Linked DNA regions of Homo sapiens: region 1 is linked to region 2. The links come from fine-mapping of genetic effects on gene expression. A gene starts in region 2. The other region holds a variant in brackets. All regions are shown on one strand. Distances are between the middles of the regions. Region 1 overlaps NEMP2-DT (NEMP2 divergent transcript). Region 2 holds the start of NEMP2 (nuclear envelope integral membrane protein 2).

The links.
Region 1: its variant is fine-mapped to the expression of NEMP2 in nasal epithelium (TOPMed, PIP above 0.99).

The regions. Positions count from the first base shown.
Region 1 is chr2:190,565,943-190,568,855 of GRCh38, forward strand. NEMP2-DT (NEMP2 divergent transcript) reads left to right here. Exons shown (of 5, transcript NR_183903.1): 2 at 2,131-2,333. It also overlaps a transcript of NEMP2 not described here. Among named protein-coding and RNA genes, the nearest start is that of NEMP2-DT, 33 kb to the left of the region's middle. The variant A/G (reference allele first, on the strand shown) is at 1,747.
Region 2 is chr2:190,533,387-190,536,299 of GRCh38, forward strand. NEMP2 (nuclear envelope integral membrane protein 2) reads right to left here and starts at 1,336. Exons shown (of 9, transcript NM_001142645.2): 1 at 1,173-1,336. The coding sequence starts at 1,269. NEMP2-DT (NEMP2 divergent transcript) reads left to right here and starts at 1,452. Exons shown (of 5, transcript NR_183903.1): 1 at 1,452-1,735. RefSeq lists a silencer at 1,000-1,649.

The DNA of each region.
Region 1 (2,913 bases), 33 kb after region 2:
AAATCTGTGGCATTTTGTTATGGCAGCCCTAGAAAACTAATATCTCCCCCCACCCCCCAACCCTTACTGGATATGGCCACAGGAAGTATGACCCTGGGCAAGGCAGCTCTGCACTGAAGCAATCCCTGAAAAGGCCAACAACTGAAGAGTCCCCACCAGCAGCCATCTCACAGTCTGGGGCAACTAGTCCCTTCATTGCAGTGTATCTAATGGATATATAATGGTCCATCACAAACATGAAAGAAAATAAAATTCAGTAGACTAGATAGAGAATGTCAGAGAGCATTCTATGAAGAGAAAGTAAATATTGTTTCACAAAACATTTTTGTCTTTATAAATATATGTGAGTGTGTTGACTGGGACTTGATGAAAAAGAATTTCTTACTGTCAGGTTTACTGGGCACAGTGGATCATGCCTGTAATCCCAGCACTTTGGGAGGCTGAGGTGGGAGGATCACTTGAGCCCAGGAGTTTGAGACCAGCCTGGGCAGCATGGCAAAATCCTGTCTGTACTAGAAGTACAAAAAATTAGCTGGGTGTGGTGGCTGAGGTGTGAGATCACCTGAACATGGGAGGTCGAGACTGCAGTGAGCTGTGATTGCAACACTGACTCCAGCCTGGGCTACAGGAGTAAGACTCTGTCTTAAAACGGGAAAGAAAAGAAAGAAAATAAAAAAGAAAGGAAGGGGAAGGGAAGGGAGGGGAGGGGAGGGAAAGGGAAGGGAAGAGAAGGGGAGGAAGAAGGAAGGAAGGAGAGAGGAAGGAGGGAAGAAAAGAAAGAAAGAAGGAAAGAAAGAAAAGAAAAAAAAAGAAAGGAAGGAAGGAAAGAAAGATTCAGAAGTCACTCACCTAGGAAATATAGGGGGTTTTTTCCCCAAAAAAGTTAAATATACAACAGATAACAGGTTTTCCATACCATACAAAAGTGAAACCCATCACTCTACAAACACCGTCTACCCACACAGAGCTCTTCGTCAGCTTTTGAGTGCTCTATTCTTAAATATAAGTCGGCAAAAAAATACCATGAGGCATGTAAATCATACCTCTAACCTAAAAGAGAGGAGGAAACATGAAAAACAGAAAATGGAATATAAAGGGAAACTATAGAAAATAGAAAAATACTGTTTAAATGCTAATTTATAGCCTGAAAAATTATGAGATTTGTATCTATAAAATAAAAGCAGAATGCGATGATAAAAGAACAATTAGATAAAAAAGGAAGGAGCTCTTGGAAACTAAAAATATAATTTTAAAAACTTCAGTAGTAGGAGTAGGAGATAAAGTTGAGGAAGTCTGCTGAAAATAGAACCAAAAGATGAGTAGATTAACAATAAGAAAGGAAAGGTATGAGACTTAGACTATCCATCTAGTAGGAACAATATCTGACTACAAGGAGCTCAAGAAAGAGAAGAAATGGAGGAAAAAGTATACAAGAAAAGTTCCCAGAACTGAAGGCTATGTCTAAAAATCGAAGGTACCAAGTACTCAACACAACAAATAAAAAACGGCCCACACCAAGGCACATCATTGAGATGTGTCAGACCATTGGGAATAATGAGAGAATCCCAAAAGCTTTCAGAAGAAGAAAAAAGAATTAGTCTTATGCTAAGAGTAGGTATCAGAATGCATCAGACTGCTTGCTCAACTACAATATTGGACTAGGGAAAGCAATGAACGATGCCTTAAGAATTATGAGGGATAATTTCATTTATTTATTTATTTATTGAGATGGAGTCTCGCTCTGTC[A/G]CCAGGCTACAGTGCAGTGGCATGATCTCGACTCACTGCAACCTCTGCCTCTTGGGTTCAAGTTATTCTCCTGCCTCAGCCTCCCAAGTAGCTGGGACTACAGGCATGCACCATCATGCCCAGCTAATTTTTGTATTTTTAGTAGAGACAGGGTTTCACCATGTTGGCCAGGATGGTCTCGATCTCTTGACCTTGCGATTCGCCCGCCTTGGTCCCCCAAAGTGCTGGGATTACAGGTGTGAGCCACTGCATCCAGCCAGGATAATTTCTTTTAAACCTAGAATGCAATACCCAGCTAAACTATCAATGAAGTGTGAGAGCAGAATAAAGATAATTTCAAACAGAGGAATTCAGAAAACTTATGTCTCATGTATCCTTTTACAGGAAGCTACTGCAGGATATAATCTAAGAAAATAAGGGGAAGAAAACAAGAAAGAGGAAGACATTGGATCCAAGAAATGGGGGATCTATCACCTTACAGATGAAAAGAGAATCTACATGATCTTTGTGAAGGTGATTTGAGCATAGCAGCTCTGCAGGAAACCTGGAGAGCAACAAGTGAGATTAATACAGGACACACAGCTCTAGTAAGGATGTCACTAAGGAAATTAAAATCATTTGTTGTAGAATACTTTATGAATCAATGCAGTAAGAGGAGGTTTACACTTCTGGTGAAGAATAGGGAATGAATTTGTGATAGGCATGTAGAAAATTATGCAAACAAATAAAATAATAATCAACTCCTGGGAAAATAGGAATTTGTACCAAAAGTGTCAATATAATCTTATATATATATGCCTCAGTTTTGAATAATATTTGTCATTTTAATTATGTAAAAACTGAATAATTATCGGCCGGGCACAGTGGCTTACGCTTGTAATCCCAGCACTTTGGGAAGCTGAGGCAGGTGGATCACCTGAGGTTAGGAGTTCGAGACCAGCCTGACCAACATGGAGAAACCCCGTCTCTACTAAAAATACAAAATTAGCTGGGCGTGGTGGCGCATGCCTGTAATCCCAGCTACTCTGGAGGCTGGGGCAGGAGAATCGCTTGAACCCAGAAGGCGGAGGTTGCTGTGAGCCGAGATTGCGCCATTGCACTCCAACCTGAGCAACAAGAGCAAAACTCCATCTCAAAACAAAACAAAACAAAACAACAAAAAACTCA
Region 2 (2,913 bases):
TATAAAATGGTGCTTTCCCGCATAGGGCTTCTATGGGTATTAAATATGATAGATACTGCAGTTAAAGCACTTATAACACTGCCTAGCACATACTGAACACTCAAAAAATTTCTCTTCAATGAAAACTGGAATCCAACACTTCCCCAACATATAACTCACTGCAAGATTCCCTCAGTTGGGAGCTGTGGCAGAATCTGATAATGACCTCATCAACATCCAGTCTCTCATTCATCCTTAGATAAAAAACCGCGGTATAACCGGAGGGAGGGCCATGCCCAGCTAAAAGAATACACTTGGCAGCCTCCCTTGAAACCAGGGTAGCCAAAGCAAGGAAGGGAAGTTGGTAGACAGTGCACCCAGGAAATCTTTTAAAAGATTTTATGAGGGGAAAAAAAAAAAGAAACAGAAATGTGAAGCTCATGGTAAGTTAGCGGCAGGTCTGGAGTTGGAACTCTAGGTTTCTGACTTCCCCAGGTGTCCTTCCCAGATCCTTCCCCAGTGTGCCAGCATCTTAAGCCCACTCCGTGGCGAGCCCCTACAGCTAGCAGCCGCTACCAGTTCTTGCTTCCTGTGTGCCAGGCATTGTGCACACGAACACCACAAGAACCTTGTGAGGCCTCATTACCTGCCGCTCACGTGGGACCGTTATGTTTACTCGCTCAAGGTCACAACAGTCAGGGGCAGAAGAATTTTCGCTCCGATTCTGAAGCTGAAGCTGTTACCTTCTCTAGTCTTGAGACCAAAGGAATGCGAGATAGTGAAATAACAAGGATTTCAACACGCATTGATGTACTGTACAAAAGGCCGTGTGCTGAAAGTCTGGAGACTAGGGTCAGCTGTGCCAGTGACAAGCTGTGTGACCCTGGGCAAATCAAAACCTCTCTGAGTTTCGGTTGCTTCTGTAAAACGAGGGAATTGGGCGACTGGATCGCGCGGTTGCTTCTAATTCTAAAATTACAAAATGTCCAACTGCCAGGCGAGAGACTACGGAAGCCCAGTAAGACAGGAAGGGCGGGCGGGGCCTGCCCGGGAGACCCCAAAGCGAGAAAAGGGAGCGCCCGCCCCAGTGGGCCTCGCGGTGCCGCCCGGGCCAAAGAGCGCGCCCTCAGGGCAGCCGCGAAGCCGGGGAGCGAGCACGCACGCGCGCGCCGCCGCCGCCGGTCCCGGGTTACCTGATAACGCTGCCGCCGCCGCCTCCCCGCGCACGGGCAGTGTGGCCAGGGGCGGCAGCCAGAGCAGCAGCCACCACCGCCCTTGGCGCGGCCCCATTTCGTTAGGGGTCAGCTCCGTGCGACCCGAGCCCTAGGGGACCGGCTCCGCTGCGAGGAGCGGAAGTGGCGCGGGGGCTCAGAGAAGGCGGAGGGGGCGGTGAGGCCCGAACGCGGGAAAGGCGGAGACCCCGCCTCCCCGGGGCGGAGGGAGAGTTGGGCTCGTTGCTCCAGCCTCCGCCCGCGGCCTCGGGGCACGGCGGGCCCAGGCCGGAGGAGCTTTCGGTGGCGCGACCCCGCTGGCATGCTCCCGGCCTCGGCCTCGGCCTCGGCCTTGGCCTCCGGGCCTCCAGCGCACGCGGGGCGTCCAGGGCCTCATCTTCCCCTGGGGACCGCCCGGCCGTGTCCCGCTGCCCTCGGCGCAGGGGTGGGAGTTGCAGAGAGGAAGAGTCGCTAACCCGGAGTGTTTCTTAAAACTTGGCTGACCTGTGACCTGCGGATTTGGAGGCTGAATTCTCCGAGCACCTGTGAGTGACAGCCCGTGAATGGGAAGGTCCTTCGGCAAACGCCCTTTTTGTGAATAAAATACATAAAAGCCAGTTTCTTTATTTTACCTTTCTGTTTATCTTTTTACTTTCATTTGGTAACAAGCAATAACAAATTGGAAATTTGGCCGCTTAAGTAACACTGACTTGTATGTCTAATCTCGGACACGGCATTTCAGAGTACAGAGGGGCTCGTAAAATGTTCCTTCACCAACATGACAAGGTTCTCTTAAAATTACCTTATGTTAAAAAAAAGTTTCTTAATGTAATAGATATATTTTTAAATTAACATATAACCTGAATGATCTTAATACTGATAATTAGGAGATATACATATATTTTAAAGAACATTCCCTCCACAGGACCTGGAACCCATTAATTTGACTCAATATTCCATACTTAACTAGGACAGTCTTCTCTAATTCTGGTCTTTTGGTGAGATATCTTAGAGAACCCAAAGTAACAGAAATTATCCTGTTAAAAATAGATAAGCCTCATTTTTCCTAAAAGTCTGAGTAGGATGGACTAGGCTTTCCTTGCCCTCAAAGAAAGGTTTAACCAACTGCCCTTAAGCACTTGGCACCATGTGTACACCATGTATGGCTTTTAAAAAGTTAAGAAATTTCCTTGTAAGGGACTCTTCAGAGGGATGGTTTTTAAAAATAAACCATCATTACTTGAGTGAAGCCTGTCTTCAGAGAAACAGCAGAGCCCTGATCCAATTCTTTCCTGTATTCCCAGGTGCGGTGTGCACTTGCTTCTTGCAAGACAGCTTTTGTACCTAACCACATTCATTTTGATTTGGTTTAATTTTGGATGGCACTATGGAAAGTAGCTAAAATAAACAGGTGGGTTGTTGAATGATGAATGTATTTTCTACAGATATATCTGGTGGAGAAACAAAAGGGCAGGCAGCAATGTACTAAATATTTAAAGTGCTATTTATATCACAGATCCTTAGTAAATATCTGTAAAGAAGCTATATTGAAACACCACATTTTTCTCTATAAGCAATAAATATTTTTCCGGAGATAACAAGAATGTTAGGAGGTGATAGTTCTGTCACTGGGGGACAATCATGAAATTCCACTTAACCTCTCCAAACTTTTCTTCTGTATGAAAACCTTATCCACTGGGGGAAGGGCAGGAAGCTTTACCAC